Linked DNA regions of Homo sapiens: region 2 is linked to region 1. Evidence: fine-mapped expression QTL. Tissue or cell type: whole blood. Region 1 holds a variant in brackets; the other region holds the start of a gene. All regions are shown on one strand. Distances are between the middles of the regions.

Region 1 (7,858 bases):
TGAACAGGCAGAGAAAGGGTAGAGTGTGTTTAGGGAGAAGAGAGGTGGCAATCGTTGGCAAGTACAGTAGAGGGGAGGGAAGGCACGGGGACAGCTGGGAGGTTGGCGTGGAGCTGAGTCCACCAAGGTTCCTTTCCTCTGAGTCTGTATTTTCCACAGAGTCTCCCCTTACTCATCTGGTTTCCCCAAAAGGACTTCAAAACCCAAGAGAAGCATATCTGGATCCACCCGACAATATGTTTCCCAGGATACTCAAGTAAAGTGGCCTTCTGGTTTATCAATCAGCGTCTTGAGCATTTAGTTGGCATGAGTTGGTCCCCTAGGGTCTCATCACTCCCGAGTGAACTGATAAAATCAAATTCCTGCATGTGCAGAGCTGAGGACCAGGCCTTGGACCTGTAGTGACCCCTGAGGGGCACAAGAATTGGGAGGCCCAGCTGGAAACCGAGAGCTCACCCACCCCTCTCTCTCTCCTCTCCCTTGATCTTGCCATTAAACTTTCATAAATGCAACGAACTGCATCCGAGACATCCGCTGGGGTTGGGCAGAGCCTGGTGTGCAGAAGGAGGAGCTCAGGAAGTGCTTCGGCAGTGGAGGAAGAACGCTCGCTGCTGCTGAGGCAATGGGCAGTGGAGCGGGGCTGGGGGGTCATGCCTCGGAAGCTGGGCTCCGGGTTCTGCTCCCTTTTTCCACTTGCTAGGTGCCTTTGGAAAAATCCCTTAACTGAGCCTCAGATACCTCATCTGTGCAATAAATACCAAATCTGAAGGCGGAAGACTGCTCCATGTCCTCTGGTGTCCCTGCCAGCTCTGACGCATGTGCCATAACAAGGGGACCCCCAGCAAGGGTTAGGGGTATTAGGGCACAAAATGTTTCCTCCCTGTGGAACTCAAGGGGAGCTGCAGGGTAGTTTCTGCCTCCGTCTCTGCGCTAATTGCTTCACGTTTGCTTTCCTCGTTGCCGTATTTGAAATGTGAGCTGTGTTGTTGGGTGGAGCGTTAATTGTGACAGGAGGATGGACACAATTTTTTTTTGTATTACCTGCTGTGCCCATCACAATTCTGAGCATTGAAAAGGTGCTCAATATACATTTGTTAAAATGAATTGAATATTATTGCCTAGCAATCAATGAATTACATCACATTCTTACTCAAAAGACATTATGTGCTTCATTTACAGTATAGCAATAATAAGAAAAACACTACAAATAAAATTGATTATTTTGAAGAATAGAGGATGAGTTTTAAGAGCTATGAGTTCTGTTTCAGAGTTGCATTTACTTAGTTACAACTCATGTTAGTTTGTTATAAGATGCTTTATTATTTAGAAGTCATTCTCCCACCCCCAGCTTCAACTCCATAAGATAGAAAATTAAAACATTGATTTTGTTTTAAAATTCAGGCTCCCACACAGCCCCATTTGTAAGAGTGAGAGGTGTTAATACTGCTAAGTTGCCCTTCATGTAATTTGGATAAATGCTGTTCACATCTTTATTATTCTACCCTTTCTTCAAAGGGGCATTCATTTCTAGTCTGAGACTAATGTGGGAATCTATTACACTGGTCAATAAATGAACAGCCTGTTCTTATACATACAAGAATTCCAAAGGCTCTCATTTTAGCCACACAAAAGGAAAACAAAACACACACATAAAACACCCCATTTCCACTTGTTCAAAGCTTCCGAGAATAAGGTTATGGTTGCGATATATTCCTAGGCCTTCCTTTGTGAATGCATACAGCAACACAATCTGGAAATAATTGCCTGCACAAGCTAATACTGTTAGGACTCGGCTTTCTGCCCTGGATCCAATGCAGCCTTCGTTTATAGAGGGCTGCTAATTCACCACTAAACCAGGTAGTCCACTAGAGGCCTGCAGACACCCTTTATTTGACTTGCAGTGTTTTAAAAACTTTTTAAAATTTGTTGCTAACTTAAAAAAAAGAGGATATTTTATAAAAATGCGGATTTCAGGCTTCTCCTGAAAAATCATAATATCCACATATAATACTGGGTCCAGTTCCTGCCTGACAGCAATTGGAGAGCTGAGTGATGCGTGTTCTCTTTAGAGAGGACGCGTGCACACTGGTCCTCACCCTTCTGTCTGTCACACATCCTGACTGGCTTCACGTGCCCATATGTCTGCCTGCTCCTTTAAGCATTTTTGAGGGTTTTTGTTGCTGGTCGTGGTATAAAATATGCAAAACATAAACTTTACCATTTTAACCATTTTTAAATGTACAGTTCAGTGGCATTAAGTACATTCACATTATTGTGCAACCATCACCACCATCCATCTCCAGAACTTCTTCATCTTCCCCAACTCAAACTCTGTAACTTACCATCAAACAACAACTCCCCACTTCCTCCTCCCCACAGCCCCTGACGACCACCGTTCTGCTCTATGAATTTGACTACTCTAGGCACCTCATATAAATGAAATCATACAATATTTGTCCTTCTATGACTGGCTTATTTCACTTACCATAATGTCCTCAAGGTTCACCCATGTTGTAGCATGTGTCAGAATTTCCTTTCTCTTTAAGGTTGAATAATGTCTCACTGTATGTATATACCTCGTTTTGTTTATCCACTCATCTGTTGGTGAACGTTTGGGTTCCTTCCACCTATTGGCTAATGTGAATAATGCTGCCGTGAACATGTGTGTAAACTCTCTGAGTCCCTCAAGCATTTATGTTTCTTGACGATTTTCTCAAAAATTTCCCAGCTCTGCTCTTGTAACTCCAGCTTTTGTTTCTCTCAGTGGTGCCCCAAAGCCTAAACATTCCAGGACTTCAGCTTAAATAATTAACTTTTGAGGAAGCATTGAAAAACATTGAAAAAGACATCTCATGAAAATGACTTGGATTCTTTAAAATTGTTAAAAGTAGTTGCTGTGGGATTTTCAAGATTTAATGTCACATTAATAAAAGAATCTGGATATAACATTTTGTGATTTATTCCTCCTTGAGTTTAGTTATGAAAAGCTCCTATTTGAGGAAGAAATTTGCAATATATTTGATTGTTTTGATCTGAACAAAACTTGTTCATCTTGGTTTGTGTGCTATGTATGCTGAAGAGGCCTTTTGTTGTAAGTGTTGATAAATGAGGAATATGAAAATAATTTAGGTTTTATTTCTGAATTTTCATGTTGCATTAAGCTAGGAAAAGTGTGATTTTTTTTTCAGTGAGTATTAAATGGAAAGGACAAAACAAAGTTTTTGCTCTTAGTTTTCAGAGACTGCTATTTCTTTTTCTTCTTCTTCTTCTTTTTTTTTTTTTTGAGACAGAGTCTTGCTCTGTCTTACTCTGTTGTCCAGGCTGGAGTGCAGTGATGCAATCTCAGCTCACTGCAACCTCTGTCTCCCGGGTTCAAGTGATTCTCCTGTCTCAGCCTCCTGAGTAGCTGGGATTACAAGTGTGCACTGCTTTGGTAATTTTTTTGGTAATTTTAGTAGAGATAGGGTTTTTTTGGGTAATTTTAGTAGAGATGGGGTTTCACCATGTTGGCCAGGCTGGTCTCAAACTCCTGACCTCAGGCAATCCACCCACCTTGGCCTCTGAAAATCCTGGGATTATAGGCGTGAGCCACGGTGCCCAGCTGAGAGATTGCTATTTCTGATTTTTTTTTTTTTT[TA/A]TTAATGACAACATCAACCTAAATGTCATTATCTGACAGAAGCACATGGCAATTCAACTTCATTATTGTGGGAACAAAATCTTGATGTCAAGATTTAAGGATCAATTGTATATCTTGATATGGGCATATTGTCTCTTGATAAGGACTTGGCTCTCCCTGTTTACTTATGTTAAAATGAATACATTTAAATTTCAAGACATGTAGGGGAAATCCCTAAAGTTAAGATCTAACATTCTTGTCTCATCTAAGTGTGTTGCACTTTGGAATGTTCTTTTCCACCTGCTCCCCATTCTCTAAAGATACTGTTAGTGACTGTGTGAAAGAATTCTTTCCCTTGACAAGTCTTTGGTGCCTTGGACTATTGGTGTAGCATGGATTAGTAAAGGAGGCCATTTTTACTACTCAGGACTGTTTTGTTTGCAGGAGACAGATATCTAACTCAAATTGCTTAGACAAAATAGCTTGGATAACTGAACATTCCAGAGATGGAATTCAGATCCATTTGGATCAAGGTATACAAAGAATGTTAGGAACCTGTCTTTCTCACACTTTCTACCTCCCATCTCTGCTTTCATCTGTGTTGACCGAATTCTCAGTTGGTTCTCTCCAATAGGGAAGCCAACATGGCCATCAACAGCTCCAGGTTCACAACACCCTCACAATTAACAAGCTTAGAAAAAGGAAAAAAACTTCTATAGTAGCTCTGACAAAATTACCAGTGAGAGATGAAGTCAGTGTTGGGTTACATGCTCATCCCTGAGCCAATCACTGTGGCAGGGGATGAGTATCATAAGTGGCCAAACCTAGTTCATGTGGCCATCATGGTACAAGAAACTGAGGAGTGGCTGGTTAAATTCCAAGTGTTTGGGAGGGCAGGGTCTGGTGCCCTCCCTCCTCATAGGGAAGGCAGGGTCTGATGTCTGAAGAAGAAAAAAGATGCTTCAAAACTCTCTTAGGGGAAAGACCAGTTTTATTCATCCTTGTTTCTTTTAGGGTGAATGACACGAGGCCTACCAAAGTTGCTCAATTATGGTTGCTGATTAAATGAATGTATAAGGAGTGATTTAAGAGAGTTTAATTGAAGAATTATTTCTATGGGGTCAGCAAGGTTAAGGGAAACCAGTGAGGGATGATGCAGCCCCCCAGGGCCAGCAACTTGGGAAGCTGTTAGAATCCTCAGGCCAGAAGAGGCCGGGGAGGAAGAGTTCCTTGAGAAAGGATTAGCTGGAGAGGGAAGACTGGCAGGAGCTGAGCCTGGGGTTAGAGGAATGCACCATTGTCAAACTGGGGCCTGGTGAGGAGGAAATGGGGAGGATAAATACCCCAATTGCTCTCTCATCCCACCCTCCACCCTCTGCAGTCCTTCCCATTACCCCAGCCCATCTAGAAGCCAGAGGTAAGGGGACATAGTTAATTTAGCACATGAAGATCAGTCTCCAGGGATCTGGATGGGCAACTGGAGGTCATCCCAATCTTCTTTCTCACTCTCAGTTCTCTTTTGACTTAGTCCTAAAGCATATCTTGGATGTATTCACGCCCCACCCACCACCTTTCATACCCAAACACAGACTATACTTATTTTACTGCCTCATGCCACATGCCCTTTGCAGGGGCACAGAGATGGCTGTGCAGGAAGTGCCTTGCACATTGTGTGAATGACGTCTTCTGAAACTGTCGATTCACAGCGTGTTCTGTGGCCTGGCCTTTGCATTGCGTTGTGATTTGTGTTGGCTGCTGGTGAGGGTGGGAGAGTTCAAGGAAATAAGAAACAGATAGGGTGAAGGCTTGTCATGTCATCATTTAAAATTAGGAAATAATGGCCTGTTTAGTTTCAGGGGTGAAACTCTGATTTCTCAGGTTATCAGAGAGATGCTGTCAGAGCAGAGAGCAGGAAGACCAAGGTTTCAGTGCTAAAAATGATGAAATCAGTTGATAAGAGTCTTGTATAAGGAGGTACTTTTGAAAAGAGGTTATTGATGATTGCCAGAGAGGGATGCTAACAAGTAAGCAATATCCAGCTTCATGGAGGCATCCAGAACTGCTGGCCTTGGGCTTCATGACCCACGCAACTTCTGATGAAACAGCATCTACATGTCTCACCGGGAAGGGATCTGGAATAAATATCTTATGATGAGCCACAGAGCAAGCCACACAGCACAAAGCCAAAAGCAAGTAATAATATGGTCACCATGCACTTAAGCACCCGCGTGGTTGGAACTGGGTGTGGGGGACTTTGGTTGTGAGTAAGGACCCTGGCTCACAGGCTTGTTGTGCAGATGCATGAAATAATAGGTGGAAAATGCTCACAGACTATCAAGTGCAGTGTGAATGTTAGATGCCATGAATGAACTGATTCTTTGTCTTTCACTATTTTTTTTTCTCCTGTGCTAGTTCCTCTGTGGTTCCTAACTGTTAGTCTCACTTTTTAAAAATGTTTAGGCTGTGGGACTTAGGTAAACGAATACTATGAAATGTAGGTAAGCTATCTGGGAACTGGTGGTCTTCTTAAACCTCTAACATACATGACTTCTGGTGATGCTCATGTTTTCAGGGCTGTAATTGTATTTCCCAGAAGTCATCCACTATGTTTAGTATCTTTCCCCTTAAAATTCTTGTGTTGAAGTCTTAGGCCCCCAGTACCTCAGAATGTGACTATATTTGAAGATAGGGTCTTTAAAGAGGTAATTACGGTAAAATGAGGTCATCTTGTTACCAGTGGAGGGTGTCCAGGTTCTTGGCATTTTGAACAAATAATTGGACAAAATGCACAAAGCAGGGAAAGAATGAAGCGACAAAAGCAGAGATTTATTGAAAACAAAAGCACACTCTACAGGGTGGGAGTGGGCCCCAGCACAGGGGCTCAAGAGCCCAGATACAGAATCTTCCTGAGTCCAAATACCCTCTAGGGGTTTCCCATTGACCACTTGGTGCTCACCTCATGTAAATGAAGTGGTGGCCCGCCGTCAGTCTAATTGGTTGCAGAAAGCAATCAACCAGAGGCTGAAGTGAAGTTCCAAAGGTCACACTCCTATGCAAATGTCTGATTGGTTGCAAAAATCAACCAATCAGAGGTACTTTCAATTTCCCATCTGCTGTGCAGAAAAGGTGGGGGTTTGCAAAGGGAGTAGTCTCTGGTCCTTTTGTTACTTAGGCTGGAAAGTTAGGATTTTCCTTTCAATTCAGTTCTAGGAAGTCAGCATGAAATGGTCTTAGGTTCCCTGCCTCCAGACCCTATTTTCCTGCCTCAATCCTGGTGGGCCCTGATCCAATACTGGTGTCCTTATCGGAAGAGGAGATTAGGACACAGATACACACAGGGGAGACAACGTGAAGACACAGGGAGAGGAAGGCCACCTACAGTCAAGAGAGAGGCCTTAGAAGAAACCAACCCTGTGGTTGTGAGAAGCCAGTGTGAGTGCTCTTGAAAACTGATCTTTGCTCTTCAGCCTGCTGGCCTTGTTTTAGCCTCATCCCTTGGACCAGTATTTACCCTATAAGATTCTTCTTTGAACTTACCTTTTGGATCTTTGGATCAGTTTTCTGCCCTTTAGTGCCTGCTCATGTGACCATGCTCTTCATTATTAGAGGCAGGGGGACAAATGTTCAGGTTTACCCAGGCCTGGGGAGATTCCTGGGATGCAGGACCTTTAGGGCTAAACCTGGGATGTTCCTAGGTAAACTGGAATGAGTTGTTCACCTTGATAAGAGAGAAGCTTTGGCAAGATTTATTTATTTTGGCTTACTGGCTTTGTTGAAAGGTGACTAGTCTAACAGGATGTTATAACTATTGTTACAATTATTGTCTTTGAAATGTTTATACACATACATTTAGAAACTATTTTGAAATGGGTGCTTCCACCATGAGGTAAGCCAAATAATGAAAAAACCATCTTCAGATACCTTTCACTTCCATTATCTCCTACTTAGTTTCATTTTAACAAGAATACTGTCTTGGCTTGGGTTTCTATTATTAATAATTTCATACATTTCAGGGTGTACACGTTGAGTAATTATCTCCCCAATGCTTCTAAGCATTCGTGTCAGTTAACTGAACCTTTTAATGAACCCACTAACAATGTCCTTGGCATTGTATAAAATATAAAATTGGAGCCAGTCCCTAGTCAATGGGTTTTAGCTGGTCCGAGCCTAACAGATGCTCAAAATCAAAACACAGGTCCAAGTTGGTTTACCTTTTATGGCCTCATTTTGGGCAATTGGAAA
Region 2 (7,858 bases), 310 kb after region 1:
GTGATGGTGTTAGGAGGTGGGCCTTTTTGGGAGGTTGTTAGATCATAAGGGTAGTGCCCTCATAAATGGGATAAATTTCCTTATAAAAGAGGCCCTAAATAGCTGTCTTCGTCCTGTGTGCCTGTCCTACCATGTGAAGACTCAGCTTGAAGGCGCCATCTAGGAAGCAGGAAATGGGCTCTCACAAGAGACCACATCTGTAGGAGCCTTGATCTTGGACTTCCCAGCCTCCAGAACTATGAGACATACATTTCTGTTGTTTATAAGCTACCTAGTTAATGGTATTTTGTTATAGCAGTCCAAATGGAATAAGACGCTCAATATATTTTCCTTTTATCTGAGACCCTGGCACTTAAAATTTTTGCTGCCTCTGCCACTCTTTGATGTCTTCCAGCCATTAAAAATATATATCTAGCTAGCTATTTTTGTTATTTCAGTGAGAGTATTGGTTTGAACACATGCTACTTCATCATAGTGGGAAACAGAACTCACCCAAGCCTGTGCATTCTAAATATTGCTTCAGCTAAGACTATAATAATTTAGGCATAGTTGTATTCAGGACATTTTCTCTAGTTTACTTTGCCCATTTTCCTTGATTCAAATTTTTCTGACTAGATTATTTTCTTGCCATAGAACTTTGTAGGCCAAAGATAGATTAAGATCTTTAGAGTTCCAAGATGAAGAAAAGACAAGTTGGCCTTCTCCCTTTCACAAAAAATTTAAAAATAAAAACAACCCTACAGTGTAAAACAAACATGAGAAATAATTCAATTTTTTCTAAAAGCATATCAAATGTAAATTATTTCCAAAATTTTACAGAGCTAAGCTTCCTGAGTATAAATCCTGGCTCTGCTATGCAGTAGGTAGGCAAATTACTTCATCTCTCTCTTCAGTTTCTTCAATTGTGAAATATGGAATAGTGCCTGCCTCATAGGATTATTATAGTAAATGATTTAATAAATGTATAGTACTTAGAAAAATGTTCCACATGTAGTAAGCACTCGATGTCAGTTAATGTAAAAATTTTCCAACATCAACAGCAAGAACCGTTAAATACATCCACATATAACTTACATGTACTCATAACAAATATTTATTTATTTATGTATGAGTAGGGTTAAGTTTGATTTACTTGGAGCCATCCAGTTTTAGAAAAGTTTATGATAACTCAACATTTTTGTTCTTTCTTTTTTCTTCTTTTCCTTTTTTTGAGGTTGGGGGTTGGAGAGAGGCTCTCTTCCCTATTAGTAGGAAGAAAAAGGAACCATTTCTTTCTACTCTTCAACATTTATTTCCCAATAGTTGAGTCATTCAACATGGATTGAGGATTCACTGTGTTCTGGGTTGTGTGCTAACTGTAGTGTTGTACAGATGAATAAGATTTCATCCTTTCCCTGAAGATCTTTGTAGGCTTATCAGAGTCAGACAGATAAAGAAGAAATGACATACACACTTGAGCCATCTACCCTGTGGCAAGGTGTCAGAATTTTATAATATATTAACTTTATTATCCTCCAAACAACCTTAAGATGTAGGTACTGCAGCTCAGAGGACTTAAGTAGCTTGCTCAAGGTCCAGCCATAAAAAGATGAAATTTGAACCCAGTAGCTCTAAACAGTAGGTCCAGGCCTGCCCATTAACGTTAAGACAGAGGAGACAGCAACATCCCTATGTACAAACATCGACAAAAGACTGGTTAGAATTGCATGACCCAAACCACCTGTTAGTTCAGGTGTGTGAGCCCAGGTCAGACTGCTTGTTTAGTGGCATTTACCAGTTATTTCTGGCAAAGTGGTCAAACTAATAATAGGCAGCCTTGACATTTTTACAAAGAGTGAAAAATAAGATGCAGAACTATTTTTGAATGGATATTTTTAAATTTGGTGAATCATTTTCACCTTAAAAAATGACTTGTCAATTAGAAAATAAAATGGCACATATTCTCTTCAGTGTAGTGGGCTGTGATTGGAGAAAGCTCTCATGTGTATTTCCTGTGATACTTTCAACTACATTTGGGTTAATTAACCAAATTGGTAGGAATCTGAGCTCTAAAGAGATCACCATCATGCCTTCAACCTCACAGAAGACTGGTAGCTTCCTTCACTCTAAGAGGAAATTCTAAACCTAGGTAGTTTGCAAAGGAAAATGAGTAGGTAGGCAAATTACTTAATCTCTCTCTTCAGTTTCTGGTTGAAGCATGTTGTAGAAAAAAAGGGCTACATGCACCCACTTTTCATTTTGAAGGTCAGTTCACTGCATTTTTTTTTTTTTTTTTTGAGACGGAGTCTCACTCTGTCACCCAGGCTGGAGTGCAGTGGCATGATCTTGGCTCACTGCAACCTCCACCTCCCAGGTTCAAGCGATCCTCCTGCCTCAGCCTCCTGAGTAGCTGGGAATACAGGCATGTGCCACCATGCCTGGCTAATTTTTTGTATTTTTAATAGAGACGGGGTTTCACCGTGTTAGCCAGGATGGTCTTGATCTCCTGACCTTGTGATCCACCGGCCTCAGCCTCCCAAAGTGCTGGTATTACAGGCGTGAGCCACCATGCCCAGCCAGTTCACTGAATATTTTAATAGTTCACTGAATATTTTAATACTGCCCAAGGCAGTATAAAGTATACTTAGTCTTAAAAATGCTAAACCAGTCAAAGTAAAAGTGTTGGTTTTTTGCTAATTTTCAAATTAATCCATTTAAAGTCCTGAATTTTAGGCATTTTTTTTTTTTTTTAGAACTGAGAACTTCTTATTTCAGAAGACATCACCTATTAGCAGAATGTGGCACTGCAGTTTTTCTCTCTTAAATGCTAAAGCTGCATAAAGAGGAGGAAGAATTAATTAGGCAGCTATGGATTAGAGCCAGAGAGATGGTAAATTAAGCAGCTCAGAGAACGTGGGTCCAGGGAAAGCTAGAAGGGTATGTTTCTCTGCCTCTTCCGGTTCCCTCATTTGTATGATGTGCATTTCTGAACATAAAAGCAGAACAATAATTGGAACAAATTGTCAGTTTATGAATTGTGGCTGTTGGTGAAATCTGCCCCTAGTGAGGCTTTAGGTAGACATTGGATTCCATTGTCCTTGTTCAAACAGGTAAATTCCCAGCTGTCATTAATCTGAAATTAAAGGAGGAAAGTTCCTTATAGTTTGATTTCGGTTTTGCAGTGCCACAGCTAATCGCATCAGGAAAATAACTTTTTAAATAAAAATCTATCTTTTCTCCCAATTGGGGCTGGGACAGAAATAAAGGAAGATGAAAAGGAGGATGGAGTAGGACGATTCTATGACCAAGTGATTTGAACATTAGTCTTATTATTAAAGAAGCAATTTCTGATTCTACTAAAGAAATTTCATTCTTTTACAGTGACACAAATGTAATCTGCCTGGCTGACTTAGGTTCCATTTATATTTTGTAGCACCCCAGAGCTACTCTTTTTTATTTATTTATTTATTTTAAGAAACAGAATAGAAGTCGTTATAAGCCTAGCATATAAAGGTCCTTAGGGTTTTGAGGGCAGTCTCTTCTCCCCTGCCTTTTAACTCCTTGTCCTTTGTTTGGGCATACATTTTCTGAATGTCTTTTTCAGAGTACCTTCTTGTGAGTTTCATTGATTTTGTTTAATCGGCTTCCCATTAATTAAGAAAGAGAATTAACTGGGAAATAGGCACGTGTGCAGAGTTAAAAGTAAGCTAGGGTCGTCGTAAAGGAAATAAAGCTGATGTTAGAAAACATGTGAGATAACCCTTTCATTCTATGGCTCTGGGCTTTCATTACACTTTGTGTTTGTGGAACACTGGCCCTGTTTACTCAATGTTGAGTCTCAGCAAAGGGGTGTGGATGAGAGGACTCAAGAGGGGAGCATTTGGCACCCGTATGGCCCCAAAGCACAGTTTTCAGCTTACTCACATGGTTATTTTAAAGTAACACTGTTTTGAAACTCCTTCGGTCCTCATTTTTACCTAGACATTTTACAGTACAGGAATCCTGAATTTATGTTATCTGATGTCTACATCCTACTTGGTGTCAGGATCATTAGACTGTCTTACCTGTCTCTGAGTCATAAGCCACTGTCATGAACCCAAGCCACTGTTTTTTATTTTTCTTTCCATCACAAGCATGGTCTCAGTATATCCATGTAGACTCTGATATAGTTTTTAAAATACATTTTCTTCCAACCCCTCCCCCTGAGCTTCTGTTTTTATATATTTGCTTGCAAATAAGTTTAATTGGCTAAGAAAACTACTCCAGAATTTTTCAGTTTCTTTCCTTTTGTTATAGAGAAAGAGAGAGAGAGAGACATGCTTCATGCTGATGGTAGTGAAACAAATGAGAACTTCAGGGTGGCATATATTTTCCTGCAAGTAACTGTAGAGAAAAGACACCAAAGCCTTAAAGAGGAAAGTTGTAGGCATTCTGGAGTCACAACTTCGGGGGTTGAGGTTGTCAAGGAGCTGTCCGTGATGGTTCTATGGTGTGTGCGTACACACATACTCTCTCTCTCACACACACACACCACAGTGACAGATGACCTATTGAAATAATTTCAGAGCCGGTCTGTGGTTGCTACGACAACCAATGATCTCTTGGCTTTCATCTGGCCATGTGACAGGGACTTTGACGTCAGCTAGAGGCAGAGTCTGTGGCTGAGTCCACACAGTCAAAGGCTTGTGAGAATCTGGTGGATGCTGGACCTTGCTGCTGCTGCTACTGCTGTTTCCAGGGGCTGCAGAGCATGGACTGTTAAATCTTGCACTTCTTCTGAGTGAGGTAATTAGTTTGCTTTATATACAATAGTTAGATGTTTTTATAGCTCATTGTGGTTTTCCCCTCTCTCTTACCTCCTACAAGTTTGTATTCATGAGCAATTATTGTTGTACCAAGGGGAAAATGTGAAGCAGCTTCTAGTTGTGAATTTCAGGCAGGTTCTCTGGAATTTGGTTAAATTTGGATTAATGTTTTGTGAAGTAGGTTAAAATATAATCGTCTTGCTTGCTCAACACTTGCTAACATAACATTATTTAGACATACGGATTTTGCAGCTTGAGCCAAATATTCTCTCTTGAATTCCAGGAATCCTCCCTTCAGTATTGTTTTGGGTTTAAAAACTCCAGCATAGCCTTGCAATGTGTTTCTAACTTTTCTTTTTACAATTGCTACTCAATTCTGAATCAGCCTAAAATAGTTTGGAATTTGGTTTCTATCTTGTTTGCAGCATTCATATTTAGCAACAATAGGAACCACGGGAAATAACATTATAACTGAAACAAAAGTTGGGATTTTGCTTGTAAGTAAAACCTTTGGTATTCTGAAAGTACCAGGAAAAATTGTCAACAGTTTCCTGTTTAGAGAGAAATAATCGGGAATATGCCAAGGAAGTTGGGGTGGAACCTTTTACATGTGTGCATGCAATTGCTTTTTGGTTGTTAGAGCAAAGTGCATATTTCCAGTATCCTCCCCTGAAAATTCAGCTGTGAAGAGAATGGCATGAGGTGGTCTTTACTAAGGAGTCATGTAAGCTGTTGTTATTTTTAAAAATCGTCATAATTACCTAAAGAAAAAAACAATAGCCCTAAAATGAAAAGTATCATTGACACAAGTTCTACTTTAACTCAAACACAGATAGAAGTAGTCACTCACAATTTGCTCTGGATCTTAAATGAATAATTTGATAACTGTGATTAATAAGAATTTTTATCTCTTTATTCCTATAATACTATTTACTACAAATTGTTTTCTTTGTATTGTAGTTCCTTTCCTTCCCAAGTTTAGTAATTTCAGATTTTCTTTCATGACATACAGGTTGAATTGTTTTGGAGCTTCTAATTTAAAGAATACCTGTAGTACTGAAGTTAGCCAAAGTCTAGATTTATAACCAGGTGTCTAAATCTTACAAGTTTAACAGAAAAAGGGGCAAATTTTAGAGCACTACATGTAATACAGCTAGTATTTTAATTAGTAGAAGAAACTGGTTTAACTGTATATATGAATACCATATATTCACAGTGTGTGAATTATATCGTAATTTAGTGCAAGAATATATTGTTTTAATTTTTATGTTCTTTATTAGTTTCAGAATTCTAATAGCATTTATTTTACTCTTGGAGGTGAAAAATTTTGAACAGTATTTAGCTACAGTAATAAGTGAATAACTGTGGGTATATCAATAATTTCTCAGTAGCTTTCAATGAGTGAATATTCATTTAACTTGCTGGCATTTGACATGTCTGTTTTTGGTCAGGGTCTCCGTGGAGGATTTTCCAAAAGTCTAATGTGCTTTCATTCCAGGCACATCTACTGAGACATAATCTCATCACTTAATTGATCTCAAAATTATAATAACCCAGAGGCCATATTCTTAACACCCCTAGAAAAATGATAATTTATATGTAACATTTCAGTTGAGCACAGATAAGACCAGTAGCACCGTCATTTAACAGCACTATCTTTGATGAGGTACACTTTGACATTTACTTCTTTTACTCAAAATGTGGAATTATCATTATAGTTTTTCCAGGTAGCAGAGATTTTCTTGGTGCTGTCTCTATGACATTTTAAATTAAAGTCTTATAATAATTGTATTCAATGCTCTTTCAAAATAGACTATATTTCAGCGGTATGAAATACAAGAGAATAATTCAGCGTTGATGGCAAAATCTCAATGATGAAGTTTATCACTAAAAGAAAACAACCTATGCTGTGAAAGCAGAGATGCTCTAGAATCTACAGGTCTTTTCCTATGGGAAAATAAGAGAAAAAAAGACTGTCATCAGAATCATTTTACAGCATTGAGACTATGTTGATTTCAAGGTCATGTTTGTTGCAGCTTCAAAAGATGCTGGCAAGGAACGAGGTACTCTAGAAACCTGGCTGTTGCATTATTAAATATTTTGTGTATAGTTTCGGACATTCTTAACCCGTTTGGTGCTGTGGACCTCTTTGGCAGCCTGGTGAAGCCTATGTACTTTTCTCAGAATTATGTTTTTACATGCATAAAATAAAGTATGCAGGTTTACAAATCAAACCACTTTCATTCATTGAAAAACGTTAACTAAATTTTACAAAATTGTGATACATGCTTTGTTAGTAACACATTATTACATAATACAAACTAACAGCAGTTATAATAACTACCATAACTACCATAATTTTGAAGTAATGGTGAGCATAAAAGATATTTCAGGATATCTACAACAACTGTAAAATGAGGTGAAAATATCTGTGATTTCTCTTGGCAACAATATCACAGGTGCTGTGGCTTGTGGCCTACATTTTAATTGAAGGAAATACTAAATTTCAGTTTGAGGTTAGTGAAACTAAAGATATAATATTTTTCCCAACCAAGTTCCCCAGGCCCTCTTGAATTTTATCCACCCCTGAGTCAATTGATATGTACGTTAGTGATGCCAAAAGGTGATAGAACTGCACTGGACAAAACCCATCACCCCATTTCCACATTCGGTTCCACCGCATCGGATTTTATTCTTCGAGTGTGTGAATTTTGCAATGTTCTCTAAATTCTGCATGAAAAGGAATAATATGTTCACATAGCTACCAAATTGTAACTTTCTTTTATTTTCCTCCTTGAGATCCATTAACAACAGTCTTATGTCCCCTGGATTGGGAAACCCTTACCTGGTTAGACAGGGGTTAAGAGGAAAACTCATAGTGTTAGTACAAGTTATGCGAGTTAAAACCATGGGCCACAGAAGGTAGTTCATGTGCTCATAGCATTTGAAGCAAGCATTAAAGAATGCATGTGGCTTTCCAGCTTAATGTAAAGCACATACACGTGTGAATTGATCAATTGTCATGTTAATTCCAGATACTCAAGAGAGAGCCCTAAAGGTTTATCTGACAGAGG

The links. PIP is the estimated chance that this variant, and not a neighbour inherited with it, causes the effect.
Region 2: NCALD starts here. The variant in region 1 is fine-mapped to the expression of NCALD in whole blood (INTERVAL, PIP above 0.99).

The regions. Positions count from the first base shown.
Region 1 is chr8:102,095,407-102,103,264 of GRCh38, reverse strand. It overlaps a transcript of NCALD not described here. Among named protein-coding and RNA genes, the nearest start is that of MIR5680, 26 kb to the left of the region's middle. RefSeq lists enhancers at 5,225-5,274, 5,285-5,444. The variant TA/A (reference allele first, on the strand shown) is at 3,637.
Region 2 is chr8:101,787,768-101,795,625 of GRCh38, reverse strand. It overlaps NCALD (neurocalcin delta), which reads left to right and starts at 4,657. Exons shown (of 4, transcript NM_032041.3): 1 at 4,657-4,764. RefSeq lists an enhancer at 7,501-7,858.